Linked DNA regions of Homo sapiens. The protein of the gene in region 1 interacts with the protein of each later gene in a biochemical or structural test. Each region holds a gene or a part of one and is shown on either strand. Other genes may lie near its edges.

The links.
Region 2: the proteins of DCUN1D4 (region 1) and CAND1 form a complex in vitro, tested with the Homo sapiens proteins (one study listed by BioGRID).

Annotation. Positions count from the first base shown.
Region 1 is NC_000004.12:51,842,590-51,859,422, reverse strand, and holds the start of DCUN1D4 (DCN1-like protein 4), read right to left. Parts: upstream 16,271-16,833; 5' UTR 16,181-16,270; coding exon 16,156-16,180; intron 15,852-16,155; exon of another isoform or gene 15,838-15,851; coding exon of another isoform or gene 15,681-15,837; intron 15,423-15,680; exon of another isoform or gene 15,351-15,422; intron 15,180-15,350; exon of another isoform or gene 15,080-15,179; intron 15,052-15,079; exon of another isoform or gene 15,024-15,051; intron 11,219-15,023; exon of another isoform or gene 11,056-11,218; intron 11,002-11,055; exon of another isoform or gene 1-11,001. UniProt on the Homo sapiens protein: Contributes to the neddylation of all cullins by transferring NEDD8 from N-terminally acetylated NEDD8-conjugating E2s enzyme to different cullin C-terminal domain-RBX complexes which are necessary for the activation of cullin-RING E3 ubiquitin ligases (CRLs).
Region 2 is NC_000012.12:67,297,537-67,314,369, forward strand, and holds part of CAND1 (cullin-associated NEDD8-dissociated protein 1), read left to right. Parts: coding exon 1-127; intron 128-211; coding exon 212-317; intron 318-1,413; coding exon 1,414-1,559; intron 1,560-4,786; coding exon 4,787-5,079; intron 5,080-7,068; coding exon 7,069-7,210; intron 7,211-7,567; coding exon 7,568-9,061; intron 9,062-9,860; coding exon 9,861-9,956; intron 9,957-12,364; coding exon 12,365-12,534; intron 12,535-12,615; coding exon 12,616-12,780; intron 12,781-14,156; coding exon 14,157-14,264; intron 14,265-15,069; coding exon 15,070-15,294; 3' UTR 15,295-16,833. UniProt on the Homo sapiens protein: Key assembly factor of SCF (SKP1-CUL1-F-box protein) E3 ubiquitin ligase complexes that promotes the exchange of the substrate-recognition F-box subunit in SCF complexes, thereby playing a key role in the cellular repertoire of SCF complexes.

The DNA.
Region 1 (16,833 bases):
TAAGAGGGTTAGAAACAGAATTTAAATACATAAAAAGCAAAAACTTCCCTTTATACCATAGTCACTTGCAAAATATAACTGGGACAAGAACGCAATTATAATGGCAACAAAAAGCAACAATACATATAGGAATAAACTCCAATATGTATGATTTTATTGTTCAGAATGAACAATTAAAGTTTACTGAAAGATATACACGTAAAGAGATATTTCTGGAATAGAAAGACCCAACGTTGTAAAGCAATCACTTCTCCCTTCACTAAACCACAAATTAATGCAATCAAAATTCCTATTCTGCTGGCTCCCCAGTTCTCCACCCCAAAAAGAGGTGGGGAAAAGAAGGAAGTCAGGCAAGCTTGGCAGATTGATTCTAAAGTTCATCTGGAGAAATAAACATGTTAGGCCTGCCAAGAAATTGTTGAAAAAGAATGAGGATGAACTTGCCCTATCAGATATCAATACACAGTATAAAGCAGAGCCTGGTAAACTCTGTATGAAGGGCCAGATTGTAAATATTTCTGGATTTCTGGCCCATACAGTCTCTGTTGCAACTACACTGCCATAGTAGCTCAAAAGCAGCCATAAACAATACGTAAGTATGGCTGCTTTCCAATAAAGCTTTATTTATAAAAACCAGGTGGTAGGGCTGGATTTGCCCCATGGGCCATTGTTTGCCAAGACCTGGTATAAAGGTACAGTAATTAAAATGTTATACTATGTGTGCAAGAAGAAAAATCAATGACAGAGAGCTGATAAACATATACGTATAAATACACATACACAACATATAATTAAATGGCATTTCAAACTCAATGGAGAAGACATAATAATTCAGTAAACAGAGGGGCAACTGGTCAGCATGTAGAACAAATTAAAATTAATTCCACCTCACCCAATAGTTACAGATGGAAGGGGAAGCTGTTCAAAGCAAAAGAAAACTTATCATGGGCTCAGGGCCTTGTACACCCTGCATCTGCTAATCTCTCCAATCTCATCTTCTACTCATCTTCCCCTTGTTCATTCTACTCAGCCACAGTGAGCTTCCTACTGCTCCATTAACACTCCAAGAACACTCCCACCTCAGCGCCTTTGCACGTGCTGTTCTCCTTACCTTGAGCGCTCTTCCCCCTAATAATAACATGGTTGCTCTCATACTTCATCAGGTTTCCATTTTAATATCACCTTTGATGGATATGTTAATTAGTCTGATTTGATCACTCCACAATTATGCATGTATCAAAACATCACATTGTACTCCGTAAATATATACAATTATTTGTCAATTAAGGATAAAATTCTTAAAAATCACCTCCTTACATAACCTTGCCAGACCAACAGAGCCCCATCTTCACTCTATCATCTTACCATGCTTTGCTTTTCTTCACAGCATTAATACCATCTGACATTATATTATATATTTGTCATCATCCTCTCCCATTAGAATGTAAGCTCCACAAGGGCCAAGACTTAAATCTTGCCCATTGCTGTATCCCGTAATATTAATACCTAGAAGAGTACCTGGCACATATTAGGTGCTCAATAAATATTCAACAAATGAATAAACGCAGATACAAAGGCACCAAAGGCTTAAATTCAATACATTCAGGGCACTTCAAGTGATCTTCAAATGTGAGAAGTGTCATGGTAAGAGGAGACTGAACAGGAAGGCAAAGATCAGAAAATGAAGAACTTGTGAATCCTGCTTGAGCGTTTAGATTTAATCTCCTAAGGATCTGTACCTCAAACACAGGCACCAGAGACCATGCAAACGTAATGACAGGAATGGCACATTCCAGCAGCATCAATTCTAATCAGCAATAATATGACAGTCTTACATGAAAACAAACATAATCCCCACATCAAGCTGTGCTCCCAGGACCCTGAAACAACTTATTCCACCAAACTCTGTACAGGAAAACATTGGTGGGAAGTCTGAGAAGCACTCCTTTGAGAGTCTTGGTGCCATGGAGGTGTTCTGATCAGGAGAGTTATTTAAAAAGATCACTCTAGGACAAGTGTGCAGCAAAGATGATGGGTGATCTGAATTTAGAGTGGCCATTTATGGAGATGACTAGAAGTGACTGAGGTGGGAAAGCATTAGGGCCGTAAGTTAGACACTGGCTGTAAAAATGGAGAGGAGAGATTCTGAGTACACTGGAGTTGCAGAAAATAGATATTTAGCTTACACAAATTCAACTCTTCTCATTTGGTCAAAAAAAATAAAAAAGGAAGAAGCGAGATGAAAAGAAATTTCAGTTGTCTCACTAACTGCCCACCCTCCCTTCTACTTAATGAGCACGAGACATGACACATGAATAGTCACTCTGTTGGTCTCAGTTTCCACATGCCAATCAGATTTTGTGCATCTCACAATACGGTATGAGTCGAGTATTTAAAGTGATGTATTTTCATAAAACATGGTCCCTAAACTGAAGTTGAAGACGAGGCCAGATGCTTCAACTGGTGCTCAAATAAACAGCCAGAGATCTATTCCAATGCTGGAGGAAGGAATAGGCTGTGCTGGATTCTTCTGAGACAGCTTCCAAAGAGGAATCTTCTGCAAGTGTTTCCAGTGGTATTTTTAACACCAATGATCTTCACCTTACACAGGGACTTTAGAACCAACCTCTATATAAAATGTGATTGCAGTGTAAGGAAAAACTAACAGGACTGCATGTGAGAGATGAGCAAGTGAGGCACTCAATGGTTCATGTTCTTTTGTCCAATTCTCATTTTATTAGCTTGAGCGGAGTCAGAGAGCTAGCTATGGCCAAGCTGGGCAAAACTCTTATCTTCTAACTCCCAATCCAAGGCTACTTCTTCCATTCTAAATTATTTCCAATAAAAGCAAAAATATCAATCTAACTTTACACTCTGTAATAGGAAAAAAGCAGCAACGTTTCCTAACCAAAGCTGTCAACAAGCAACCACACACTTAAAGTAATTTAATATTAAAGAAAAAAATTTTAAAACTGGCTGAATCTAAAACAATTCACCATTTTTCCCCCAGGGAAATAATGGTACAGAAAAGATTTAACACCAGTGTTAACTTTCTATTTTTAAGCACAATTCGCTCTTCTGGTCACTAAAGCATCATCAAAGTGTTTTATTATTAAACTACAGCTGAACAATTCTCTCAGATATAAAAGTTTTAAACAGTATTATGCTCTTAACAAATGCTTTTCAAGTGACGATGAAAATGATGAAATAAACCTGTAAAGGCGGCAGAAGGAAAGGGCAAAATAGTGACCATGTTATTGCCAAAAAAGCAAAACAAAATTGGACAAAATTAAAGGTTACCATCTAACCTTGGCACTCATCTAAATGTCTCTGGAACAGAACAAGAACACGACTGAGGTATAGGGATCTGCCTCTCTAACTGGGATTCATCAGGGAATGCTTAAGGGTGTTTCAAGCCATGGGTCACATGGCTCAGCCTCCTGAAAAGTCAATTGTACCACGTGATATGGGAAAAGAAAACAAAAATTGTTAAAGCCAAGGCTGCACTGTGGTTGGGAGCCACTCTTTAGATTTGCCTTGTTTCCTTCCTTCTAGAAACACATGCCCTCTTTTCCATGGGTTTCAGATAGACTAGGGATGAGAATGTCAACGATGTGGAGCAGAGACCCATTCCAACCCACAAAGGATGCATTACAACCTTTTACTTGAATCACTGAGATGTTGTATTTGCTATTGCAGCATAAAAGAAAAAAAATTCTAGTCCTCACAAGGCTCTACGTGATCTGACCTAAGTCATCCCATTCCATTATCCTTGCCTACTCCATTCTAGCCACACAATTCGTGAATATTCAAGTGAATTCCTACCTCAAGGCCTTTGCATTTACTGTGCCCCTCAGCCTCCATGACCCTTGACGTTCACAGGCCCAACAGCTATCTTTCCTGAAATATCTATTTAAATGTCACCTCATCAGAGATGTCTCATCTAACTTCTTTATGCAAAACAGTACCTCCATCTCCCAGTGGATTTAGATTTTTTTCATAGCACTTACCACTTCCTGATATTAAAAGCTTTGAAATATAATTCACATAGCATGGAATTCACTCATTATAGTGTAAAATTCAATGGTTTCAGTATATTCAGAGTTGTGCAAACATCACCACAATCTAATAATAAAACATTTTTTATTAGCAGTCATTCCCCATTTCTCCCTTCACCCCTCTTCAGCTCTAGGCAACCACTAATCTACTTTCTGTCTCTATAGATTTGCCTATTCTAGACATTTTATATCAGCAGAGTCACACAACAGGAGGTCTTTCATGATCCTGACATTATATTAAATATTTATTTATGTCTTTGTCACTCTTCCTAGAGCCCAAGTTCCATGAGGATAGGGACTTCCTTTTGCTTTATTCACTACTCTATCCCAATATCTTTTGGAGTATCCCTTATCAGAAATGCTTGGGACCAGAGCATTTCAGATTTCAGATTTCTTCAGGTTTTGTTGTTTGTATTATACTCACCAGCTGAACATTCCTAATCCAAAAATCTGAAATGCTACAATGAACATTTCCTCTAAGTGTCATGTCAGCACTCAAAAAGTTTCAGATTTTGGTGCATTTTGGGTTTCAGATTTTCAGATAAAGGACACTTGACCTGTACCTACAACAGCACAAACCTAGCACAAGGCAGGTACCAATAAATAGGGGAATAAATGCTTTAAAAATAGTTACTGAATTTAGCAACATGGAGGTTACTCCATGACCTCAAAGACTGCAATGACAGAACTGAGACCAGAACAAAGTGGGCTGAGGATTGTATGAGTGATGAAGAAATACAGACTATGTCAGGCAAAGACAACTTGTTCAATAAGTTGGCTATTAAAGGGGAGACTAGAAATGCATGTGGGTTTGAAGGAGTTTGGGTTTTACAATGGCAGGACTTGAGCATGCTTCAAATGCTGCTATTAGTTTTGCTTAGTATCCTGGAGGGTTACAGTAGCCAGAATGTGAAGAGGCAGGTCAGATCACAAGTCAGTGAAGATCTAATATGCACTCAAAGATCATAGTACATATGTTTTTAAAAAGTACAAAATACAATTTTAAGTAAAAAAGATTCCCTTAAAAATGAGGTACATCTCAAATAACCTGAAATATAAAATGTACCATAAAGTAAAATCTATGTCAAAACCATAAAAAAGTAGTGTTTTAAATGATTTACAATACCAATTTACAACTCTGTATGCTAACTGATAGTCACTAGCTACATGACATGGCACAGGTCTCAGTTTCATTTGTAAAAACAAATATATTCACATTTGAGGCTAAATTACTAAAACACAAAGATCTGAAATGTTTTCTATACTGTAAATCTAGGAAAAACCAAAACCTAGGTTTATGGGTCAGTTTCATACTACATGTCCTTCATGGCTACAAGTAGGAATTTCTTTTTCTACGAAATGGATAATCACAGTGCCTGCCTCATAAGGATATCGTGTGGATTAAATGAGTTAATGCTGCACTGTGCTTCAAACAGTGCGTGGCACAGGGGAAGCACTACCAAGAATTGGCTATTATGTCATAGGCGAGCAGGAAGGGTCTGCACGATCTGCCCAGTGCAGTGCCCATGGGGGAGCTGCTGCATCTTTTGAGCCCCATCTCCACAGCCCAAAATAAACCCAGCTTCCTAATTAAGCTATTAATATTTAAATGAAACCATTGGCTACACAGTGGAATCACCTAAGAAGACTGAAAAACACCAAATACCAGGGCCCCAATCCAGATCAATTAAATAAAAATGGGTGTGGGGCACCACGTGTTTCTCAAGCAGCCCAGGTGATTCTAACATGCAACCAGAGAAGTAGATTCTATCCCTGACTCTCAACTCAATCCCTGGCGTGCCAGTAGCCAATCCACTCCTGGAACAACCTCAGCACTGCTAGACAGGAATCTAACTCATTCACCATACCCTATCAGCACACGATGAAAAGGCCAAGGTCCAGGAAAAAGATTGCAGAGCTGAAAAGCAGGGTAAAAACCAAAAGAATTGAAAGTAGCAGGTGAGGAAGGTGTTAACTAACTTCATTCTCCTCATCAATAAATATTTGCTATTTACAAGGCACAAAAGCCAAAGGAGAAAATTGATAAGGGAACAGGTCATTCAAAGTGACTCAGCATTTTCACTGAACACAGATCCAAAGTTAAAGCTATCCAAGCATATTGCTGCTGGCTTTTTCTTCCTCTTGCAGGACTCAAAAAAGGGGCTGGGAGAAGAAACCATCCGCCCAAGGGAGGCAGCATCCATCCATCGCCCACCACACTGCCTGTGCCTGCTGGTGCTATCCCAAGGGACTCAGTCACTTCAGGACACCCGTCTGGCTGCACTCCCAATGTGACATGGTACAAAGGGCCCTAGCTTCATTCTCCTCACCCCACCTACCCACTGAAGGTGAGCACAAATGATCTGTACTACCCACTGAAGCACACAGAATCACTGGGTAGTTCACAGTAAAAATCTTTCCATCTCACTAATGTTAAATGAGCCCAGATTTTGGTTAAAGAATGTCAATCAGCTCTGATAACATAAAGCCCTGGGTTGGAGTCAGAGCTCCAACTGAGTCCCAACTGAGTGACCCTGTACATGCTTCCAAACTTCACTGTGCCCGTGTCCTCATCCATAAAGCCGAAATAACAGAACCTCTTTGCGAAGCTACTGTGGGGATTATTAAATGAGATGGTGCATGTCAAGCACTTAGCACAGTGCTGGTCCATATTATGTGCCAATCAACGTTAATTGTTTTCATCCCTATTATTATTTAGAACGTAGAAGACACTGAGACAGACTGAACCTAGAACTACAAAAAGACAGGGCAGAAGAGATCACAAGGTGATGGTGTTTAAAACTACTAATTCACTAGCTATTGGACTTAAATGTACAACTATCCCGTTTCCTGTTTAATTAATAATTAAGAAGTGATCTGTGGCTTAATTTTGGGAATTGCATATGTAGGACAAGACATTAAACTTACCCTAACCTACAGGAAAAAAAATAAAAATAATTTCAAAAATGTTATGTAAAAATGATGTTAGTAGTTGTTTTCTAGTTTTGCTGCAATGTCGTTGAGATCTCCTATATTTAAAAATAACAAAGTCTATTTAAATAAAATCTAAGAAGACTAAAAATGACTATTTCATTAGTTAAGAGTATGAAAATACTTTGCCACAATTCTTCAGTTTCCCACTTAAAATCAGTTTTTAAATGTCTACTCTCATTGTAAGCAAACCAGCAAAAATGAGAGGGGATGAAGAAGAATGGGAAAGAAGAGACTCAGAAATCCCAGATCCTGATCCTGCTGGGACTCATTCCAAGAAGAAAAGAACCAAGAGATAATCCATCAGCTGGCTCTGTCAGCATCATTCATAGGCCAGTGACAAAAGAAAAAAAAAGAATTCCAATATACATGCAGTGTTCCAATCAGGGTTCAATGAAAAGCACAAACAAAATGTTAAGAATGATTTCAGTGGCAGTAGAGGGTTACCAAGACCATGGAGTCAGAATGCTTGAGTTAGAATCTCAATTCACCACTTATAAGCTGTGTGACCTTGAGAAGGGGAGTTAACCTTTCTACACCTCAGCGTCCTCATCTGTGAAACAGAGATAATAACAGTCCCTAACTTATTGAGGGTTGCTGTGAGGATTAAATGAGTTAATGCAGGCAAAGCAGTTGAAGCAAATCCAAGATCATCACTGAATTCGTGTTAGTCCCTCCCCATTCCCCTTTGCTCCTCCTCCCTCCCTGTGCCCCACCTGGGACTTCTCTTTCCTTCTCTCAGTTCCTTTCCACTCATACACTCTCCCTGGTGCCTCTTTTGAGTTCTTCCCACCGACCCCACCCCACCCCTGCCACCAGCTCCTGCCTAGCCCTGCACCTCACCTTCCCCTCCACTCTAGCCTACCAAACACCCACTCTCCTGCCACAGTTCTCTGTCCCCACCATGCCATGTTGTCGCTGGGCTTGGAAAGCTCCCACCTGACCCCATATGCCACCTGCACATGCATACACATCCTGTTCTTCACATAATCCAACTTCAAAAGCTAAAACTCACATGACAACTGCTAACCATTCCCCACATGTTCTCAAAGCCCCCGGGGCATCCATCTAACCTAGCAGGCATCATCGTCCCATGCATCCATTCCTTCTGTCTCCACAATGAACTCACTGAAGGAAGCTCCTGAAGCCCCGGTCTCCCCCACACAGTCCTGCCTGTGACAGCAGCACCTGGCAGCAAAAATCCCCTTGAATGTTTGCTGAATGGCTGAGTGAGGGAATGCCTCATTTGGTTCTGTTCTTTCTTATAACTTTTCTTCTCAAGAGTGATTTTTTAAAGGCTACCTAGGAGACTGTCATCACACAGTAATTGTAAGCATCAAAAACACTTTACGTGTTTCATCTCATTTAATCCTTTGGACCACTTATGATTTTTGCCTCCTACTTTCTTCCCTCTGCCCTCCCCCACAACTCTAAGCACCCCAGCCTCTGCTGTTCCTCAAATATAGGCCTGCTCCCCACTCTGAGCTTCTGCATTTGTATTCTCTCTGCCTGGAATGGCCCCTCAGCTCCATCAGGGCTTAGCTTAAAACCTCCTTAGTGAAGCCTTTCCTGGCTCCACTATTTAAAATTACAACACCCTCCACCCCACCCCACGCCCGCACACAGGGGTGCCTGCATGCACCCCTTCCCTGCTGTTTTTCTCTACAGAACCTATCACCATCTGACGTATTACACAATTTACTTGTTACTATCTGCCCCCTCCCCTACACTAAAAGGAAAACTTCATGAAATATGAAGAGCAGGGCCTGGTACATAGTAGATACCCAATAAACACTTGGTGACTGAACAGCCTTCAACAGGCAATTTTTAGGCATGAGGGCTCTGAAGCGCACACAGAGCAGCTGGGTAACTCTACTCCAGTCCCTTGGCTAGGAGATGACAGAGCAAGGATTTGAATTCAGCCATTTTGGCTTTCTTGCCTCCCAACCTGACCCAGATAACAATTAAAAGACATCATCACATCCAGGGAGAAAACCCGAGCCCTGCATGTCTACAGGCCACAGAGAAGCCAGAAAAGCCATCCACTGGAAAGCCGCTCACCAGAACAAGTCATCTAACTCAAGACACTTCTGTGCGGCAAAGTATTATTTATCAGACTGATAATTTATACAGCACTGATAGTTTTTCTTTGGATTTCATAGTTCAGTAAAAACGAGAGATTTATCATGCCTTTATTATACTGTAATATCCTCAGGAACAGCAAAGTGACAAATCATCAGCTAATATGGAGGAGGCCTAAGGTAACATATGTTAAAAGCCAACAATTGTGGTAGTGGGGCAGGAGGAGAAGCACTGACTACAAGGGGACACAAGGGAACTTTTGGGGTAATGAAATGTTCTATATCTTTAGTAAATTCACCCAACAACACTTAAAATGAGTATAATTTTATAATACGTGAAATTATACCTAAATAATGTTGACTAAAAAGGTATTTGGTACATCAGATGTAATTTTTGGCTAAACAAAATAAACATTCCACTAAAACACGCACACACACACACGCACGCACACACACACATATTTCTGTAGCTAATATTCCCACATCAGAGCCAAAAAAAAAATGCACAAGGAGTTATGTATTAGCTCCTAGGCATCCCAACTTTTGGGGGACAAAGAATTAGGAAAAAGCAGCAGTAAAGAGTGGCACATGATGAGACCCAGTGGGCTGGGCTAGTGTGTGGTTCGGGAGTCCTGCCTGACCACCAGCAAACACAGCTCCCACGACCCACAGCTGATATCGACTGTGTCCTCCTCCAGTCCTCTGGGTCACCTCTGACCAGAATGTACAGGCAGCCAGGATGAAAAAGATACATCACTGCTCTTCACAAGGGCTTCTACCACGTATCTGACCAGCGACAGTGACAAGTCTGGATGCTGAAGTATCAGAATTCTTAGTTGAGAGCATCAGAAACTAATTCTAGGTAATTTAAACAGAAAAGTGATTTAAAAAAAGGGGAGGCGGCTATTAGACAGTTCACAGAATCTCCCCCTGGCCATAACAATGCCTAAGGGGACACAGCAGACTGCATCATCATTGCAGCAACAACTAGACCTTGCCTCTAGAAGCAGCACAGCAGCCACCACTGTGCATCCCCCCAGAAAATGGCCACATGGGCTACTCTTCTTTCCTTGCCTCCAGCCTCAGGTTCACAGTCTCAGGCGAGTGTGTCTGAGAAGATCTGCCTGCCAGGGTAAGAATTCTCCAATCAGACCAAGAGTCAATGGACTGACAGTGTCCATTACAGACACTAATCATAAACTAATATGGAGGAGGCCTAAGATGACATATGTTAAAAGCCAACAATTGTGGTCGTGGGGCAGGGGGAGAAGCACAAATGGATTACTCCCCGTCTCTGCAAATCTACTGATACAGGCCAGCAAAAAATTTCACAAGGAAAAAAAAATCCTCGAAGGCAGAACTAAAATAAATCATACCACAGGTAATGCTATTTGAAGAGGGCAGGGGTCTTTTTCATATCTAGTGTTTTTTTCAGTACATTAGTTACAAATGACAAGCCTATCTTCCTAGATTGAACATAACTCATTAACAGCATTTTCTGATTAAAAGCAATTCAAACCTGAAGTAGCAGATACTTTGCTACATCTAAAACTGTCACACAATGATTGTTAAAATACCTAATTCTATTTAGAATGCATTTCAATGTTTTCCTTCTTAAAACACATTTTAAAATACATGTTCTGCTTAGAATACTTCTCAAGAGGTACTTCTCCTAATGTAAATTTCAAAAGAAAAAAAGCAAGCTATGAGAAGAATTAATACCAATTCGAGTTGACCAACTATAAAAATTTACCAGCATTTATGTCAGATTCATCAAAGAAAATTTTACTCTGTAAATCTGAAGAAAGACTTTCAGTGATCTCACTATATTGTTAACTTAAGAAATAAATCCTTAGGACCAGAATATGGATATAAAACAAAAAGAAGGGAAAAGGACAAACACTCTAGGCCCCTTAACATCAGACCTGTTAATGCTGCCTTAACCTTGTGCAGGTAGGACGCTGACACGAGAGACCAGAAACGGACGTGTGCACATTCACAAACACTCCTTCTGTTCCCTCAGCACATCACCAGCATTTTACTCTTTCCTTGAGAATTTCTCCACGCCACATTCTCTAAAACTGATATCTGCATGTTTGAAAAATATTAAATTAGTTTGCATACAACTGACTTTGTCTAAAAAATGCAAAGAATGAGTAGGTGAAAGCTTGTGTTCCTTGAAGAAAAATCTAAAGATAATGAAAGACAACAGGAACAGGAAGAATTAATTTTTCTAGATAATGCACAAGTTATTCAATAGTTGATCATTTAAGTTCAATTCAATACATATTTGGGTAGCTATGCAAGGCATCATGCTAGATGCTAAAGTGGATACTGGGTAAGACATGGTCCCAGATCTCAAAAAGGTAATAATCTAATTGGGGAGGGGAAATAAAAGTAAACAAGCAGCTATTGTTATGTAACATAAAACTGAGTAACAGAAGGAAGCACTGCTTCAGAGATTCCATGAAAGGAGAGTCTGCTAGAGAGGGAGCACAGTAAAGAAAAATTCTAAAACAGCAGCACTGAGGGCAGCTGGAGCCGGGTGCAGTGGCGTGCATCTATAACTTCAGCTACTCAGAGACTGAGGTGGAAGGACCCCTGAAGCCCAGAGTTCGAGTCCAGCCTAGGCAACATAACAAGACCCAACCTCTAAAAAAAAAAAAACAAAAAAGAAAGAAAAATGTATTGCTGGTTATTATAACACTGTAAGAAAGGCTGTCTCAGACATAAGGCCATGGCAATAGGTATGGGAAAGAGAGGCTGGGCATGGGAAGAGATGCAATCTCTCCTTGCCACTGACCAGGGAAGAAGAGGATAAGAAATGTCCAGGATTTCAGTGTGGGTTATTAAAATTACTGCAGCTTCATTTACCAAATGAATAAAATTTATTAGTTTTGTTCTCTTCTTTGACTATTAAAAAGCTCAGTGCCAAATATTTCTAACATATGGCAAGTGTTTCTGTGTACCTTACAAGTCTATATATAAATTTTTCTTCTCTTGACAGGGTTTTATCTATATTTAGCAAGTCACCCCTAATTCTTTTAGAATAAGGCAGAAAATAAATCAACGTAAAGGTTGAGACCAAGCCAGAGACAGCTGGCCAAAGTAGCTGGTTCAGGGATATAACCTGCAAGTTGCCAACCCAGCGCATTCTTCTCACCCTTCTTCCACCCTACGAAAGGCCATATCTTACAAGAGATGCTGGTAAATGCCAGACATTCACTGTGTCAGGCTTCCTCACAGCTAGCAGTGGCATGAGATCAGTTCAATCCAATGACACTGAAATGGAACTCTCCAAAGTGAGTTTCTGCAAAAGACTTCTCTGTTAACAGGGAGTTATAAGGAAATATGCACCTTCCTTCCCTGCTTTCCAATCCAGGCATGATGTCTGGTGCTACGGCAACCATACTGCAAACATGAGGCAAATGAGCCTGAGGAATAAAAGCTAAAACACTAATAGAAGAAGAAAAAGATGCAGAACCTAGATCCTTAATGACATCATTAAGCCACTGCACCAGCTTTAGAACCAACTACTTCTAGGTTTCTTGCTACCGAACAATAATAAGCCCTATTATTTAAGCCATTAATTTGAGCATTGTATTGGCAAAGGCATCCTAACTGATACAAGAGATCATCATGAGGTCAGTTTCTCACAGGTTGATTTTTATACTGCTAAGTTAGCAGGATTATTAGCTATTAATTATTAGTTATAATTAGCAGATGATGATTGAGATAATAATGTAAACGTAGCCAGGAAGAAGGTAATAAGCCAAGAAGAGCTGCTGGGAGCAACTTAACATAAAAACAGAAAAGGAGACAATGATAAAGTTTGAAAAAACATGATTAAGTGCCAGTAGGGGTACACAGAGTTAACAACAGAGGAAGAAGAGAGTGAAGTCCACTAAGAGAAAATGAGGCAGGCCTTCTTTTCTGGCAATGTTACAGACAAGATTACCTAAAAATCCTTCTTAATATAAAACAGTCAAAAATTCTGGATAACGTGTAAGAAACATCTGTTTAAATGCACAGCTACGTTCACAAGAAAATAAAGGACCTCCCCAAGCGCCAAAAATCAAAAAGGAACCTAAAAACCAGAGCAGAAAGTGTGTAGGAGCCTAGGGCTTTGGGGAATGGAGGGAGGTGGGCTATATGTGTATAAAAAGCACCTGCCCTTTGGGATATAATAGAACAAAAGAAAAAGAGAAAGCTATGACTAGCTTCATATTTTCTTTAAAAACACCATTTTGAAGACAATTATAGCTCTTGCATGTTTTTCAACCTCATCACTTTACCCTCTGCAAGAAAAAATTCCAGAGTTAAGTGCACATTTTTGTACATATTTTTATATTACCAAGAGTTTCCTGGATATTTCACCACACGATTAAGTAAAATATGACAGATAGATATAAATGATCTCCACAAGAACACCACACACATTGCCCAATTTTTCACTCATCATGAAAAGAACCATCAAACAATCAAGTATCCAAGTTCAGTATGTTTGTAACCACACCAAAAGGTTTACAAATCTTAGGACTTCTTGGTAATATTTTTATCATCAGAAAAATTACAATATTCTTCTAATGACTATGTTGCAAGTAGTTTCATAATACCTTATATATTACATACAAAAATCTATCATCTCTGCATTAATCTTAGCCTTCTACATTACAGATTCTGGAGTCCCTTCCCTGTAAACAGTAAAGGGAACTGGTGAAGGATGTGACGTTTAGGGAGTCTACTTATGGAGAGGAAGGTTTCTAGTATTAAGGAGAGAAGGAATTGCAGCCTGCAGCTAATAATAAAACAAGCAAACAAAAAAAGTCTTATGGTTCTCCACTTTTTACAGTTTTCTTCTATTCTCATTTGCTTTCCAAGCTTCTTCGAAAATTGAAGACGTCACATATTACCTTTGCTCACCTTCACATTTCCACCCTAAATTCCACTAACCCACCTCCATCACTCATTTCAAGACAGTTATTTTTTCAAACACCCCAAGAAATACCAACACATAGTTTATATTATCGTTACAAGGGTTACGTGTACCTCCACTGTGTTCTCATATTTATGCAAGGGAATGCTGGAACCCAGTGCTTACACACACTGGATGCCAAAATTAAATACACCATTCTAAAGGCTGCTTTACATTGTGTTGCTTCTTAAATGTTTTCCCACAACCCGTGCGCATGATGGTACAAGACCAAGCATTTATTCCACAAGTAAGGCCACAAAATGCAGGGGGAAATTCACTTGGGGACCAAGAACCTAAGCGTGAAGAGGGCTGCGCCTGGCGTGGGCTCTCCCTCTCCCAAGGGAGAAGGGCTGGGGAGTCGCTCCGTCCCTGGGAACTCAACCGCCTCCCGAGAGCGCGCAGGAGCTGGCCGGGGAATAAAGCACGAGTTGGCCGAGCAGGAAGGCTCCAAGGGCGCGCTGCATGCCGGGACCCGTTTCCACAGTTACCCACGTGCACCCAACCCAACCGCGGCCGGGCGCGGCCGCGACTACAAGTCCCAGAATTCGGCGGGACCGCCTTTCCCCTTCATACCCGTTGACTGGAGACAAACCCTAAAGGAAACCCCTCAAGCGCCCTCCCAGCACGCCTGGGAGAAGTCGCGCCCCCCGGGCGTGGGGCGCGGCCTAGGGCCCGGCCATCCCTCTAAGGAAGCGGGTTCCATGGCACCAACCCCCACACCTGATAGCCAGAAATTAGACAACTGCGTCACAGACTATCAAACCCACGGACTGCCAGGGACCCCGACACCTCCCCGGCGCCAAGCCCCCGACCCGGCCATCAGGGCCCGACCCCTCCGGCTCCCGCTGCTGAAACCCCGCAGCCCGCACCCCTGCCCCGCCTCCTAGTCCCGCTGCCGGAGCCCGCGCCAGCGCTGACCTCGCTTCCCGCCGTCCGGGGGGAACCACGGCCAGTTCCAACCTTAGGGCACTTACCCCGTCTCCTCCACCTCAGCCCCGCCCCCTCCTCTCTCCGCACCCCGAAGCTTGGACTCCCCCCTTCAAGGGACCCTGCCTCGACAGGGAGAGGAAGTACCTCCCCTAAGCACAGTCTGACACCCCCTTAGCCCGGCTCCGGACCGAATCTGGACGTGACAGTCCTCCTGCCCAACTCCGCCCCACCTCCCCTTCCTCCCCGACTAGCTCCTCACCCCCATTTCATATTCTCCACCCCTGCCCCCACTCTGCCACCCCAAATCCTACCCACCTTTTTCTCCTCTTCCTCCCAATCGCCCTACCCTTCCACACCTGCCCCATCTCTTTACCCCAACATCTTCCACTCCCACCACTCTCCGTTACCCACCGCCCTTCCAACGCCCCTCCCGCCCCGCAGGACTCCCCAACTACCATTACACCCCAGTCCCTCCCACCACCTCGCTTTCCCGTTACATCAGCCCTCGTCCAGTCGCCCGCCCTCCTGCCCCGCTCGGCCGCTGCCCCCATTCCCCCACCCCATTGTTCGCCGCCCCCCCCCCACCCCCCCGCCAACCAGCCCTTCTTCCCATTGTCCCCGCCCCCGCGCCCCCCTCGCACTCACCCGCCTTTCTCACGGAGCCGCCCGCACCACTCAGCCCTTTGGAAATCCTCACCCTTGTGCCCCGCTCGCTCGCTCGCTCCCTCCCTCTCCCCGCCGGTGCCACCCCCCCACATCCCCGGCCCTGCCCGCTACAGCCCAACGCTGCCTCCACCTCCATGCACCCCGGACACTCCGATCTCGGCCCTTCATCGCACGTCCAGCCCTCCCTTCCCCCAACACTGAAAGAGAGCCAGTCCCCACCCCCCTCACCTCCGCCCTCCCCGCAGGCCGGTCCCTTCCCCCCACGCCCGCCCCCGCCCCACGCCGCCCGCAGCGTCACCGCCCGCCCCGGCCCCGGGAGGGGAAGGGGTGGTTCCCAGGCAGGGGCTCCCGGCGCGTTTCGGGACCCGAGGCGTGGGGCGGGGACTGCGGGAGCCGAGTGGCGAGTTTGGCAGCCGCCCGGCCCCGGCCCGCTGGCTGGCTCTCTGCTACTCACTGACAGCGGCGGCATCCGAGTGCATTTTCAGGCAGCTCACACCCGGCTCGCCGCCCAGGCTCCCGCGCTCGCCTCGCGGTCCCCCCACCAGCTCACTGCACCTCGGCTCGAAGCTGAGGACCCGCCGCCGGGCACTCCCAGCCCGCCCATCTCGCCTTCTCCATTGGCTAAACCGCGGCTCAGGGGCCGCCCTGCTGCGTCTCTCATTTGACAAAAGGAGTGCCCATAGCGCCGGTCTGGAGCTGGCAACGAGGCCCCGCCCCCCACTGGCCAATACGATTGGTCCTGGGGCCTTGTCTCCGTAACGCCCCTGGCGGAGGCCATGCTCCGGAGCAGCGGGTTGGGCCCGGCTGCTGTCAGTCACCCCCAGGGGTCCGAGAGCGCGTGTAGGGGCGAAGCTGGGAAATTGGTCCACCTTGACCCTGAAACCCCGCCCAGTGGCGGGCGGGATTGGTGGAGCTGGAGACCCACCAAGAAAGATGGGTCGGCGTCTGAAACAAAGCACGCGAAGTGTTTCCCAAAGAATAGAGCAGCGCAGCGCAGTTGGGGGCGGCTCGTACCAGCTGCTGGAAGTAGGGAAATGCGTCCGTCCCTAGCGCCCGGCGCGACGCGGCCGGGTCTCCCGCCACTTGTCCCACGACACTTGTCCAGTTCGCGCCGAACTCGGACTGGGACTTC
Region 2 (16,833 bases), on another chromosome or scaffold:
AATATAGTTTTTGTAGATCTTATTGAACATCTGTTGTCAGAGTTGTCCAAAAATGATTCTATGTCAACAACAAGAACCTACATACAATGTATTGCTGCTATTAGTAGGCAAGCTGGTCATAGAATAGGTAAGAAATCTTTAAAAGTTTTACAGTTTTCTTTAATTAAAAAAATTAATGCATGTTTTTAAAGAACCATTATGCTTTTCTTAGGTGAATACCTTGAGAAGATAATTCCTTTGGTGGTAAAATTTTGCAATGTAGATGATGATGAATTAAGAGAGTACTGTATTCAAGCCTTTGAATCATTTGTAAGAAGGTAAGTTTTTAAGATCTCTATTTTTTACAAAAAGTTTTTCCTTAAGAGTAGAATCATAAGGTCTACATTAGGTGTGTGAGGAGAAGCGGCCTTTTGGATTTCAGATATAACAGACAATACAGTATTTGAAACTAATGTCATCTTGCTATTATAAAATGTGGTCATCACATTTATTTTGAAAATTTTCCTTGTCATTGTTAGGACTTTATTTAAAGAATTTTGGAAAGGTATTTATAATTATTTTGGGTTTACTTTAGAAGGGAAGAAATGCCAGTGTAATAATGTAGTCTGTACTGAAAGCCCAGCAGGATAAATTATTCGTCAGAAATAAGTAGTGAATTGCCTTTTCAACAATTTCTTAGGTCACATCCATTTTGCTAGGTCAGTGATTCTCAATTTGGAAACTGATTCTAATATATTTTTTAAAAGCTTAGTAAAAGTTGTGTATTTGTGTACTAGAAGGCAATACAAGATAAGTAACATTATTTTTCCTCTTGACTAATGCAGTAGCATGGTGTCTTGAGACCTTACTGGTTGTTTTCTGCATTTATCCCTTGACACTCCTGGTTTTGAGAAGTGGCTTTTAATCATACCATATTCTGAAAATCAGAAATTGTTAGATTCATTTTTGTTCCTTTAGTTGAGAAACACAAAGTATTCTTTTATTTGCTGGCCCTGTGGGCATTTATATGTTCTGTCCTCTCATTACATCGGTAGAAGACCAAGCCTAGGTGAATATGCACTGGCATTTCCACAAATAATCCTAGTTACTGAAGAGCACATTCATCTGGGTTTGGTTTTCTAATAACATGTTGATTATATACCGATTTCTGTCTATACTGCCATACATTAACCATAACATAGTTAAAATCGGGATTAGGGGAGTTCATCTTAAAATTGATTAAATAAGTACAATTTGAAAGGTAAACCTTTTAAAATAGTAAGTCCATGGGAGAGAAAGAGCAAGAATCATTGGTGCTAGATAGTCTGGGAACTACTGTCCTATGTTATTGCTGGTAATAAAGCAAAATGTGGCAGGTAATGAATCAAGGAGTAAAATGCAGCTCTTCAAGGCAGCTTTTGTTTTTGTCTTTAGATGTCCTAAGGAAGTATATCCTCATGTTTCTACCATTATAAATATTTGTCTTAAATATCTTACCTATGATCCAAATTATAATTACGATGATGAAGATGAAGATGAAAATGCAATGGATGCTGATGGTGGTGATGATGATGATCAAGGTATTGCAAATTAAATAGAATCTTTTGAGTTTTTGTGAAAGACACTTATAGATGGAGATGATTCTTAGTCCAAATTGTACTGTTTGTTTTATTTAGTTATAATAGTGAAAAGGGAAATGATCTCAATATTTGACAACAGCAAATTAAGTTAGAGGGCATCCATGTATTGAACTGTTATGCAACACATTAAAAAATCATGTCTAAAAATCATTCATTAATGCTGTTAATAAGGTGAGTGAAAAGTATGTAGCAAAAATTGCTCACCATAGCCCAATTTTATTTCTTTAAGTATACAGAAAAAAATCTGTATATTTACAACTAGTACTATTACCACTTGTTTTCTCTTGGCTAGGAACTATGTATGATTTTTGGTTTTAAGTACTATTCAAATTTTCTACAAAGCATTTTTGTAAGGAGATAAACCAAGGTTTTAGAAAGAATTGAATCTGTAGATATACATATTTAGGGCAGCTTGGCTTGAAAGAATATTAGTTTGTTTATTCATAGTTCATGAAAAATTCTAAATACTGTTCGAGGCCCCATTTAACATTCATTAATAGCTTACAACATTTCTGAGGCTCCTAAGATTGATGTAATCACACGATGATTTATGATATTTACTCTGGAAAGTAGTAGCAGCACTTCAAGGACATAGGGGTTGCTCATGTCAGTTGTTTCTGTTTGTATTGGAAGAATCATAATAACAAATATTTAAGTTGGTAAATTACTAGGTAAACAGGTTGGTGGATTTTTTGTTATTTTTGAGAATACTTTTTAGTTTGATTCTTTGAATGAATTTACATAACAGCTTTCCTGTCAAGTCAGTAATTTCACCCATCTTTAAAAAACAAGTACCAAAAGAGTTTCTTAACACCATATACTCCTCTAGCAGCTGCTGCCTAGTTTCTCTCCTCCACAACAGAGCTCCTTAAAAGAATGCAGTTCCATTTTCTTTTTTCCATTCTCTCTTGAATCCACTCCTCCAGTGATGGATGAGATTGCAAATGTTTGACTCTGCCTATCGTATTACTCAGTCTCGGCAACATTTCTTTATTTAGCTTCTGGGATACCATTCTAGCCTGGATGTAGTCCTATCGTTGTGATTACTCCAGTCTTCGATGCTGTTTCTTCTTCTTCACCCTGACCACTGTACTTAGAGTATCCCAAGGCTCAGTCCTTGAACTTAACCTGTTATACTGTTGATTTTTTTGTTGATCTCATCTAGTCTCCTGGCTTTAATATCAATATGCTGGCAACCCACATCCTATCTTTAATCCAGATCTCACTTGTGAATCCAGATTCATATGCAACTGCTTAATTAATATTGCTGCTTGGATATCTAAAATATCTTTTCCCTGCCCCTTCCCCATCTCCCACCTAACCTGTTCTTCTTTAGCCTTTTCCATCTCAGAATGGTACCTCTATTCTTCTTAGTTGATCAGGCCAAAAACCTTGCAGTCATACCTGATTCCTTTTTCACACATCCCTCAGCTAGTCTTCCACCTCAGAACTATCTTTCATTTTATTGTTTTTATTTTGTTTATCACACTTAGTAACTTTCTGACATACTGTAATTGATGGTCTCCTACCTATTAGAATATAAGTTTCATGAAGGCTAGATGTTTTAATCTCTTGATTGACTGCTTTATTCCAGTGCCTAGGACAGTACTTGACACACAGGCAATCAATAAATGGGTTGTATTAATGAAGGGAAACTTTAGCTTATATTTTAATATGAATATCTTTTGAAGAAAGCAGTAGCAATGTATATTCCAGGTTTTGAATTTTGTTTTTTTGTGTGCTGTATAACAAACTAGGTACTTCACCTGCTTTATCACTTAGTATGAATTATACCCATTAAATGACTTTTCTACCATGGTGTTTTTGTGATTTATAAAATCAACGTAATTTTAGTGAATAAGGACATTTGTTAATTTTTTATAATCTTGTTTTTAATAAAGCTTATATTTCTGGGAGGCAATTGCCATAGTGTATTGACATGGAAAAAATTTTATGTGCTCTTAACTTGATAGTGTATTTTGGCAGTATCTTTTAACTTTATTTGAATAGATATTGGTAAATAAGCAAACGTCTTGCATTTAGCAGTATTTGGTTGTATTTTCCTGTAATGTGCTAAGGTGAATTTTAAGCTTTTGAGTTGGAAAATTTTATTATTTTGTTGTATACTGTAGAATCTTCTAAGGCCTAGCTGGCTACATTTGACTGTCAAACTAAGCTAATTGGAATAAAAGCCAGTAAAAAGTTACTACTCCGCTCTATTATTTCAAGGCTATGTATAGTCTTATCTAAGAATAAAGAAATTATTGTGAGATAATTTTAGACTATCATGATAACTGCTAATATTTCTGCCACCTTTCTGACTTCATATTACCCAACTAATTAAACCTGATGGTGTTAGAAAGAAAGATTTTCTGGAGATTTCACACACATGTTATCCATCAAGTATAGATAAGTGAGATACAATTCTTAGTGCTTTTGCTTTGAATGTTTAAGGTTTAGCATTAGGGGAAAAAATGGTCCTCTGTTAAGTGTGCAGCATTTTCTTGGTATAATTAAGCAAAAATGGTTTTGTTAAAGTACATTAAGACAAAATTGTGAAAGGTTTAGAATATACATATTTGTTCCTCACAGCTTATCAACAAGTTGAGTGAAAAGCCTTGTAGTCACAAAGCTGATGTCAACCTTCTTTTTATTCCCAGCAAATTAGTTCTACAGTGTTTTGGGATTGGTAACCATTCTTTTTATCACCTACTCTATTACCACAAATCCATTTCATGGTTTGTCTTATAAAGTCCCTGATTGTTTGCTTGATTTTTCCTATGCTGTTAAGTAAGTTCTTTGAATTTTGTTTCAAAGGCTGGGAAATTTATGACTATAAATATTTATATTCTAAAGAAGTTGAATGTGTTAATTGATGATTTTAAAGGGTTAAAATAAGCAGCAGTTCATTACAAAGTAAATGAGAAAATGTTTAACTAATTAAAAATACCATTATGTTTGTTTTTTAAGTTTAATTTATGTGCAGATTTACAGAAATAACAAGCTCTTTGTTCAAGTTCTAGTTCTGTTGAAACCTACCTGTTGCTGTATATGTTACCGGAAAGTTAGATTAACTGATTTGGTTAAGAATATCAATTGATTTTCTGTTTTAAATGATATACTTCTCTTGTCATTAATAGCCTGTTTACATTAAAACTTACCCTTAGGGAGTGATGATGAATACAGTGATGATGATGACATGAGTTGGAAAGTGAGACGTGCAGCTGCGAAGTGCTTGGATGCTGTAGTTAGCACAAGGCATGAAATGCTTCCAGAATTCTACAAGACCGTCTCTCCTGCACTAATATCCAGATTTAAAGAGCGTGAAGAGAATGTAAAGGCAGATGTTTTTCACGCATACCTTTCTCTTTTGAAGCAAACTCGTCCTGTACAAAGTTGGCTATGTGACCCTGATGCAATGGAGCAGGGAGAAACACCTTTAACAATGCTTCAGAGTCAGGTGGGTTTTAAAGTAAAGTTTAGAAAATCATGATAGTAAATGCAATGCTTTTAAAATTGTCTTTATATGGAAAGGTGAGTTCCAGAATATCTATAGAGAAGCAGAAAGTTCTAGGATATGTTTATATAGTTAATGCATGTTCATATTATGTTAGTTGTAAACTATTCTAATTGAATTATTCTTGGCTTTACATGATAAACAATATTTAAATAATTTTAAGATTCAGTAAAGTAGTCTTTATCTTTGATGTTAATAGAGAAGTCTTAGAGCTGTGGAGTCATACTACTTGCGATCACATAACTGACTTCATTTCTAATTTAGGTGTGTGATCTTGGGCAAGTTATTTAGTCATTTTATTAAACCTCACTTTTCTTATTTGTAATAAGAACGTACTTAGAAATATCTACCTGTGGTTGTGAGAGCTGGGTGATCTGTGTAGAGCATTCAGTGTAGTGCCTACTACATATATGCTTGATATATGCCAGTACTTACTAATAAAATACACATTTTTTCACTTGAGGGCATTTGTTTTCTAAGATCCTAAACATTAGAGCTATTATATGCTCCCATTTATTGAATATTTATTACATACCAGGCATTCTCCTATCTTATATGTAATCTCTACAGCAGCCCTATGGGATGCACAAATAGTAGGTCAATTTTTATAGATTACAAAACAGATATTGCCAGGGATTAAACCAGTGGAGAGGACGGGACACACATACTGTATCTATCTTGTTTTTAAGTAGTACAAATAAATACATTTTTGTGGTGAACTTACTCATAAAGGTGAATGTTGAAGATTAATTGTAGAAGGAAATGAGATAAAGTGTATGGAGGACATATGCAAGTGAGTGAGTATATAGAAGTCAGGTATTGCTCAGTAGAGTTGCCAGGAATTCTGACAATGCTATGGAAAGTCAGACATTTTTTTTGTTTTGTCTAGTTCTTAGATCATTGTGTAATTAGGGTATGTGTCCATGTAGTTTGGTTGTTGGGATTTTTCTTGGCTTTTTGTTTTTACTCTGTACTTGCTTTGCTGTTGAGGTATTCTAGAAGCTCCGTTGATAGCTTTGCATCCGTAAGATTTGTTAGTAGAGACCCTGTTTGTTTTACTGACTAGCAAAACATTAGGAAGTTTAGAGCAGATGTCTTTTAATCATACCCCTGCTGCTTGTAGCTACATTTGAAGTGAGGTTGATTCCTTCTAACAGCAAATGGAAAGTAAGAAAAGGACCTGTTCGATGGTTGCTTTTCCATAATTTGTCTTGTTTCCTTTGATTTTTATCTGTGCTGTTGTCATTCAAAATACCATTTATAAATTAACCTCCTAAATTTTTTATTGAAAATATGATTTGATTAATTTCTTTCTTTCTCTTTTTTTTTTTTTTTTGAGATGGAGTCTTGCTCTGTTGCCAGGCTGGAGCGCAGTGGTGCTATCTCGGCTCACTGCAACCTCCGCCTCCTGGGTTCAAGCGATTCTCCTGTCTCAGCCTCCCGAGTAGCTGGGAGTACAGGCATGCACCACCACGCCCAGCTAATTTTTGTATTTTTAATAGAGACAGGGTTTCACCATGTTGGCCAGAATGGTCTCGATTTCTTGACCTCGTGATCTGCCTGCCTCAGCCTCCCAAAGTGCTGGGATTACAGGCGTGAGCCACTGTGCCCAGCCTATTAATTTCTTTTTAGTCATGTATGTTTCACAATTAAAAATTAAGTAGGGAAGACTATTTTGTTGCTCTCTGGAAAGCTAAATGATAGCTTTTCTGTAATTTCTTATCAGTATCAAGCAAATATAGTTACAAGAGAACATATATAATACATGCAACAAACTTGATCTTGTGTTAGCAATAGCAATAGATAGCTGAATTAGGAATTTAACAAAAAAAGATAAACTCTTCCCTTTATCCTCATTCTCCATAATTCATGTTAAGTGTACTGAGGAAATACCAACAGCTGAACCAGCTAATGACTATATGATAATTGCAGGTTCCCAACATTGTTAAAGCTCTTCACAAACAGATGAAAGAAAAAAGTGTGAAGACCCGACAGTGTTGTTTTAACATGTTAACTGAGCTGGTAAATGTATTACCTGGGGCCCTAACTCAACACATTCCTGTACTTGTACCAGGTATGAAAGAAACATAAATCTCTTTTGGGACTTATTGTAGCCTTTTTGTTAGGACTTAGATAAGCTTAAATAATTGTTTCCTTTTAAAGGAATATATGTGACAACTTAATATGCACATAGAGCTAACTTTTTAATCTAACAATCTTGAATACCTGAAGTTAGAAATTTGTAAGTAAAAGGTTAAAAGTCTCACCCTAAAATATTTGGCTGTAATATTTATTGTAGATGGTGAAAATTTCTACTTATAGAAATAATATAATGAAGTGGGAACATTAGCAGTACTATAGGGGTTGATTTTTAATTTTTCTTTCTTAAAAGTCTGCACAGCAATGATTGGATTTTTTGTTGGCTTTTTAGGAATCATTTTCTCACTGAATGATAAATCAAGCTCATCGAATTTGAAGATCGATGCTTTGTCATGTCTATACGTAATCCTCTGTAACCATTCTCCTCAAGTCTTCCATCCTCACGTTCAGGCTTTGGTTCCTCCAGTGGTGGCTTGTGTTGGAGACCCATTTTACAAAATTACATCTGAAGCACTTCTTGTTACTCAACAGCTTGTCAAAGTAATTCGTCCTTTAGATCAGCCTTCCTCGTTTGATGCAACTCCTTATATCAAAGATCTATTTACCTGTACCATTAAGAGATTAAAAGCAGCTGACATTGATCAGGAAGTCAAGGAAAGGGCTATTTCCTGTATGGGACAAATTATTTGCAACCTTGGAGACAATTTGGGTTCTGACTTGCCTAATACACTTCAGATTTTCTTGGAGAGACTAAAGAATGAAATTACCAGGTTAACTACAGTAAAGGCATTGACACTGATTGCTGGGTCACCTTTGAAGATAGATTTGAGGCCTGTTCTGGGAGAAGGGGTTCCTATCCTTGCTTCATTTCTTAGAAAAAACCAGAGAGCTTTGAAACTGGGTACTCTTTCTGCCCTTGATATTCTAATAAAAAACTATAGTGACAGCTTGACAGCTGCCATGATTGATGCAGTTCTAGATGAGCTCCCACCTCTTATCAGCGAAAGTGATATGCATGTTTCACAAATGGCCATCAGTTTTCTTACCACTTTGGCAAAAGTATATCCCTCCTCCCTTTCAAAGATAAGTGGATCCATTCTCAATGAACTTATTGGACTTGTGAGATCACCCTTATTGCAGGGGGGAGCTCTTAGTGCCATGCTAGACTTTTTCCAAGCTCTGGTTGTCACTGGAACAAATAATTTAGGATACATGGATTTGTTGCGCATGCTGACTGGTCCAGTTTACTCTCAGAGCACAGCTCTTACTCATAAGCAGTCTTATTATTCCATTGCCAAATGTGTAGCTGCCCTTACTCGAGCATGCCCTAAAGAGGGACCAGCTGTAGTAGGTCAGTTTATTCAAGATGTCAAGAACTCAAGGTCTACAGATTCCATTCGTCTCTTAGCTCTACTTTCTCTTGGAGAAGTTGGGCATCATATTGACTTAAGTGGACAGTTGGAACTAAAATCTGTAATACTAGAAGCTTTCTCATCTCCTAGTGAAGAAGTCAAATCAGCTGCATCCTATGCATTAGGCAGCATTAGTGTGGGCAACCTTCCTGAATATCTGCCGTTTGTCCTGCAAGAAATAACTAGTCAACCCAAAAGGCAGTATCTTTTACTTCATTCCTTGAAGGAAATTATTAGCTCTGCATCAGTGGTGGGCCTTAAACCATATGTTGAAAACATCTGGGCCTTATTACTAAAGCACTGTGAGTGTGCAGAGGAAGGAACCAGAAATGTTGTTGCTGAATGTCTAGGAAAACTCACTCTAATTGATCCAGAAACTCTCCTTCCACGGCTTAAGGGGTACTTGATATCAGGTAGGTATCTAGATTTTCTTACTTAAAAAGTTTTTTATTGATAGTTGGTTGCCTTAAAAGACACCTAATAAAGAAGTTAAGCCATGTCTATATTTTCTTAAACCTAAAAGCTAAGTATGTGATGAAGAAAAACTGTCTTTCGTAGTATGGAGTGATATTCAAATGACATTTTGTTGTTTTAAAGGATAGTGTGGTAATTAGATAATGGTTAAATCTGTTCTAATTCCTCATGATAACTACATTTTAATGTTACTATATTGTGTTAAAATGTGGAAAAGATGTATCTAATGAATTAACATAATCTGAAGAGCTTGTTGATACTAATTACAATAAGTATAATTGGTGACAGTACTTTTTTCAAATGGAAGATTCTGGAAGAGTTTTCAGATTTACCAGTGTCATCCCCATTAGAACAAGTAAAAGGTAGTAATATTAATAGCAGTAATAGCCATTCATTCTTAGACATTGCTTTCTGTTTTAGTAAAAAATTTGAAGATTTTTAAGCGGTTTTGGATTTAGCTAGTTCTATTTTGTGAGGGCGAGATCGTCCACTGCTGCTTCAAGTCCCTCCTTCCCAGAAGGAATTGTTTCTTTGAAATCTAATGGGATTATATTTTGTGCTCATAAGTAAGTTAATTTTGCTCCTTTGGATTCATGTGTGCAATAAGAAATACCCTTCTTGGCCAAGGAGAATTCTAAGGCATTGAAGACACTGGTGTTATTTGGAGTGGTTTAAAAATGATGTCCGTGAGTTTTAGTGGACTACATACCAATAGACTTGCAATTTATTTTTAACTAGGCTCATCATATGCCCGAAGCTCAGTGGTTACGGCTGTGAAATTTACAATTTCTGACCATCCACAACCTATTGATCCACTGTTAAAGAACTGCATAGGTAAGTGGAAACAAAGATAAACATACTGATTTTTGGACTTTAGAATTCTCAAGAAACTCTTGAACTTAGTAACTAGAAATATCGAGGAATTAAAATGCTTATAAAATAATTGTTTAAAAGAAAATTGATATGATCTTACAACTTTTAACAAATTGCATTTGCCTGTATTGTTTGTAATTATTCCTAGATGATTTTGCACATAAATGAAGTTATAATATACCAGCATGTCTTTAGAGTCAACTACATATTTGATAGCCATATTTTTGGGGTGACCTAAGATAGCTTTAGTGGATAAAGCAAAAAGATACTAGATTTATATGGCCAGTCTGAAGTTTCTCCCTAGATTTAAATGAGTCTTGCTTGAGCTATTAAGGCCTCAAATTTCAATTATTACTTCTAACACCCAAGGAGATCTATGGAGATTTCCATATTTAAGGTCAAAATAACCTAAGAATAAAAAATAAAGGGGGGGAGAGCTAATTCCCAGAAGAACTAAGAGGAGATAACCCAAGAAAAACTAGGGCTTCTCTATTTCTGTGAAGACAAGAATTAGCTTTTGGGATTATTTCTGATTTTATAACCTCCTTGCATTTTGTTTTTATCATTGGTTTTCCTAGAGTTTGATAATAGCCAAAAACACCTCAGAATTTAGTTTGTTGCTTTCTTGAGGACAGGATAATGGAGATAACCATCAGGGAGGATTGAGGGATTTGGCAAAGAAGCTTTGTAGCTTTGTGCCATTCTTCAGTGTGCCAGAAAGAAAAAAAATACAATATAAAATTTGAACTGCATAGAAAGGGATTGCCAATTCAGAATAAGGAAAGCACAGGCACAAATGGGTTCTATTGCTAGGGCCTAGAAATTATTTAAAGTCTATATGAGAAACAACTTATTGGCATTTCCCCCACACATTTTCTGCTTTGATATGTTTATTGAGGACATTGGTATTATGCAAAATAGGACAGAGGAAGAGGCCCATGCCATATCTCTAGAAATATCTTTCCATGTTGACAGCAGTCAACCAGTATGCATTGTTGATACAGTTACTCAGCCAGGTAGTTAGCATTCTAATTGAATTATGATCTAGTTAAGTATTCATGACTATTTGAACATCAGAACCACCTGGGAAACTTTTTAAAAATTGAAATTGCTAGTTCATGACACCATTTTGTCCATAATAGCAATATTTTAGATGCTTTACTGAAAGCGGATATATACTCTATTGTAATTACTCTTCTAATCTACCAGTTTAGTATGCAAATAAAGGGGAGGGGAGATTAGTTTGGTACATTTATATTGTTTTTGAAACCACGCTGTTTCTCAGACTTTTTTTTTTAAATCAGTGCTGGAACTTTCTTGGATATCAACATTGGGTTTCCCAATCTACAGTATCTGAAGTCTCTCTTTCCTCCCATATTTTCAAATTGCAGGTTTTTCAAGTTGGCATTCAAGTCTTTTATCTCTCCTACATTTCCCTGTGTATTCTAAAAGATTGCTGATGATAGAGTTGAGATCATATAATGATGAATAATAGCTACATGTGAATACTTAGTGTGTACTAGACATTGTCTTCAACAATATATGCGCCGTTTATTCTGCTCAGTATAGCTCTAAAAGGTTTATAATCCTCATTTTATTGACTGAGAAACTGAGGTTCTTGCCTAAAGTAACTTGCACAAAATCATACATTTAACAAGTAAAATGATTTGAACCACCAACCATGTGACTCCAAAGATCTTTGCATTATACTTTCTTGCCCACATTTGCAAGAGTAAGCAGACTTTTAAAATACCTAGATGGCTTCTCTGGCTTTTGTCCTATGTTAGCTTTCAATTTTCTCCTTTTATATTATTTTCCTGTGAATTCGTGTATTTCTTACTGAAGACAGAAATAAAGTAGGGCTTTTGGAGGCACGTTTCTCTTTCATTTGATTAATTGTATATCTGCTAATAGTACTCCATCTTTATTAAGCAGTGGGTCTGTCTTCACTTCATTTTTTTATTCTTATTTTGAACTTAGTTTAAAAATATTTTTGTTGCTGCTTTTAGTGAACTACAAGGAGAATCAAGCATGTGATTAGTCTTTTTAGCTCTGTCTCTGTCATATCTTATATCTATAGAAGTGATATTGAGGAACTTTATGGACTCTTCTTCCATACCCTCTGCATTATAAGTGCTGAGAGTGGATTATCAATTGAAAATATATTCACCTTCAGAAATGATAGTTGCGTTGCTGCTGAAAGAAACGTTATGGTTCACTTAGTGTTTCATCAGGTTCTTCCCTGACCGTCACTGAAGAAATAACAATGACACCAGCAAAAATAAATTATATCAACTTAGAGAAAATATAATGTATATTGTATTTTAAGTTTATCATGTCTGTCTGTTGCTTTTCTTGTAATATTTCAGGTGATTTCCTAAAAACTTTGGAAGACCCAGATTTGAATGTGAGAAGAGTAGCCTTGGTCACATTTAATTCAGCAGCACATAACAAGCCATCATTAATAAGGGATCTATTGGATACTGTTCTTCCACATCTTTACAATGAAACAAAAGTTAGAAAGGAGCTTATAAGAGAGGTAAGTTAGATCACACTGTTTATTTGAGCTTGTCTTTGACTTAAGTATTGTATATCCACACGTTCTTTTTTGCTTTAACAGGTAGAAATGGGTCCATTTAAACATACGGTTGATGATGGTCTGGATATTAGAAAGGCAGCATTTGAGTGTATGTACACACTTCTAGACAGTTGTCTTGATAGACTTGATATCTTTGAATTTCTAAATCATGTTGAAGATGGTTTGAAGGACCATTATGATATTAAGGTAAGATGTTTGTGCCTATTTATACAATGTTTTAGAAGAAGACTTTGCTAGAGCAACTTTCACCCTTGTAATTTACTCATGTGTCTGAGAAAAATCAGGTTGTCTGTGAAGATTTTGATAAGCATATTGTAAACTATAAAGTGCAAAAGTAATAGGCAGTGTAACACCAGTTGACGTGTAAGAAAGATCCAGAGCCCTTTTTATTGGAGGAGGAAGTGGCAGTGGATGCAAAATGCTGTGTGCCCACTTGCTTAGTGAATAGTCCCTAGATCCTTTCCCTCAAAAAAGTCCCGACAGATTTTGCTGTTTAAAGTATAAATCTGTAACTTTTTGGCCTGTCTTAACATTGGACCATAGTTGCTACCCATGGAGGGTTTTCTTAGCATTGTCTTGATTAAGTCTCCTGAGCTACCTTTGGGGCTAGTCTGAATTGTAACTGTATCATTTACCTGAATGAGGAATTTTTGTTTTTCAATATAATATACTGTGTTTAATATCAAGAATTTTGTTATAGGACATGGAACTTTTCAGATATACAAAACAATCTGTAGAAGCTACTTGAGAGAAATCATACTGCGTCTTATGTTTGGATAATGAATTTTGCATATAAGTGTTCTTTGTTTTCCTGTGTGTTCGTCTCCATTTAAAATGTGAACAGTAAAAGGGTGATTTGAAAAATGAAAAATATATGCATTGTGTCTTTTTCATCTACTCTTCCATTTAGGGCTTTTGGCCAAGCAGGACAAAAGTGGTAACTCAGCAGTAATTGAGCCATACTACCCGAACTCCTACTCTTAGGTTTCCATGTGTGGTAGTGACCTGAGCCTCTCAAAGTTCAATGAAGAGGGCCTCCCCACCAAGAAGTAAAAGGATGTGCTTGTTTAATTCTATGAGTTTATAGTCCAAGAGAAAAAGGTTTATGGGTTATCAGGTTTTACATGGATTAATCTGAATAACTGGTCAACTCTGTTATGATAGTGGAAACTTATTATGAAATTGTGTTCCAGTTCAGTAATTTTCTAGTTCTATGATTCTCAATTCTGGTGCACATGAGCTTTAAAAAATAAAAATAAAAAAAATAATGTGTGCCATATTCTGACAGGTTCAGTAAAACTCTCTGGGGATGGGGCTTGAAGAATGGGTATGTTTCTAAAGCTCTCTGGATGATTCTAATGTGCAACCAAGATTGAAAACCACTTTTCTAGTTCTTATATCTGTTTGAGACAAATCTGTCTGATTCTGATTGGCAGATTACATTAAAAGGAAGGTTTACTTTGCATGCTAGTTATTTTCCTTTAAAGGATTTGTCAGAATTTAGTATTTTGTTTTTAGAAAATGATGTCAAATCTAAATTCTGTCTTTTTTATTCCTAATAGATGCTGACATTTTTAATGTTGGTGAGACTGTCTACCCTTTGTCCAAGTGCAGTACTGCAGAGGTTGGACCGACTTGTTGAGCCATTACGTGCAACATGTACAACTAAGGTAAGAAATGATAAGTATCAACCTAGGTCAGACTTGGTGTATTGGGGATTCCTAGCCAATTCTTTTCTCTAGCTTTCCAAATATAACTATTCCAGTGCTCTGTGTAGCAGTTGGTTTAAAAAGTTAACCTATCGAATACTGATATTTTATAAAACTTAGCCCTGTTAACGGCTATTCTTAAAAGTTTTTGTTTATTGCTATATCAATATGTTAACATTTTGAAGTACTGATACATATTTGAAGTACTGATATGGGATAAAATGTGATCAGGCCACAAAAGAGGAAATTTTTAATTCTGGTTGGAAGGGGAGTCAGAAGGTTTCATATTAGGTTGACAACATTTGCAATGAACCTCGAAAAATCAAGATTTTTTTTTTTTTAGACCAAGAAGATGAAACGGGCTTTGAATAAAGGCCTGGAGATGTCATCATATGGTGTGTTTGAAAAAGTGAATAATAGAGTATAGCAAAGAATAGGGTAGCTAGAGGAGTACTTTCTTGATGGGGGCTAAAGTGTGAGACTTGCTAAGCAGATAGTTGAAACAAAGAGTGTCCTACTCTCTTTGTTACAATCATTTGGGTCTAGATTTTCTGTTTTTATAATGGGGCTTTGTGTAAAATATTCCCTTAAAAGAAAAGGAGACAGCTACTTTAAAAATAAGTTTAAAAACAGTTGTTCTTAGAATGTAATATGCCTTATGGACCTACGAGAGTAGCTTTTAGCAGGAAGATCTTATGTGCTTAAATTTTGTTCATGTAAGAGCTGTCTTTTATAGCATGTAATCTAAGTTTACTCCATCTTACAGGTAAAGGCAAACTCAGTAAAGCAGGAGTTTGAAAAACAAGATGAATTAAAGCGATCTGCCATGAGAGCAGTAGCAGCACTGCTAACCATTCCAGAAGCAGAGAAGAGTCCACTGATGAGTGAATTCCAGTCACAGATCAGTTCTAACCCTGAGCTGGCGGCTATCTTTGAAAGTATCCAGAAAGATTCATCATCTACTAACTTGGAATCAATGGACACTAGTTAGATGTTTGTTCACCATGGGGACCATTACATATGACCATACAATGCACTGAATTGACAGGTTAATCATAAGACATGGAAAGAGAAGTGTCTAAAAGCTTCAAAATGTTCCACTTTTTTTTCCTTCATGGAGACTGTTTGTTTGGCTTTCTTCCATTGTTGTTTTTGTAGCATTTATTTCAGAAATGTGTATTTCCATAATCCAGAGGTTGTAAAACCACTAGTGTTTTAGTGGTTACAGCAACATTTGAAATGGAAACTAAAAGTTAGGATTTTATGGAGTATGGAGATAGGGTCCAGTATCTATTTACCCTGTAATGTTTAGGATTAAAATGTTAAAATTTTGTGACCATGAATTTCTTTCTTTTATAAATTTTCTCATTTAAAAATCAAAAATCTTGCAAAACAAAAACCATGTTTCTTTTTCTTGTATAACTTTTTGTTTTCAGCAACATAAATTGATTTTTAGCTGGCAGACAAGAATATCCATATAAGATTTGTTAACCATTTCAGAGAGTTTGGCAATTTTTAAAAGATAATAAGGTATCATTTTTAAGTATGAAAATTAACAATATCCCTGTTGCGCACACTAATTTTGCATGAGTAAGTTTACAAATATGTATCGTCTGTAAAGCAGCATGTGCAGATTATTCATAATATAGAAGTTAAAATAAGTATTAGTGCAATTTTCAGATATTTATTTTTGCACAGAAAACACATTATCTGGAGAGAAAGAAAGGAGAATTTTTGAGACTTGGGTTTTCTTAATGCCAGTGTGAATTTGCAGATGTTTTCAGAAAATCAAGTCACAGTAACAATTTGCCACTTTTTTCTATTATAAATCTTCTTACTTAAATTTTGAATATTTAGTTTTTCTCAGTTACCCATTTGTGTGTGTGTGATTCCACTTAGAAATTCTTAAAACCAGATTTTTCTTTCATTCCGTTTGGATGTCTACATTCCTTATCAAAGGATATAAATACTGTGTATGCTTTTGAATTTTATTTTTAGGAAAATTCTGAAGCCAGCTATCACAGGTTTGTTAGCTAATAATAGTATTTTCTTTTAGTTGAGTTAGGTTTTTCCCCATCTCCTGTAGAGCGAATTTACATATTGTATTGGGTAAGTGTTCACTACTTTTCCTGATTAAGGGATCTGTGCTGGGGAACAAAGCTTTTGCAGTACCTTATATTGTAGTTAAAATTTTATTTAACATATCCTTCAGTGAGCTCATTTCACACTGTAGCCTCTTCCTTAAAATTTGTGGTGCTCCTGTAACAGTAAGAACTAATTCTGAAATAAAAGACATCTCCTAATGCTGTGCAAACATAGTTTACATGTATTGAAGGAGGCAGTTGTTAAATTGAGTGACCAATTTAAGCAATCAGATATTTGAAAACTGCACCCTTTAGTTTTGAAACTGTGAATTAGAAACACTTTTCCTGCTGTATTACTACCTGCTTTAACATCCAAATATACAGTGATTTTAAATGATAACATACTGTGGTTATTAGATTAACAGCTTGATTTTGAATGTTCAGAT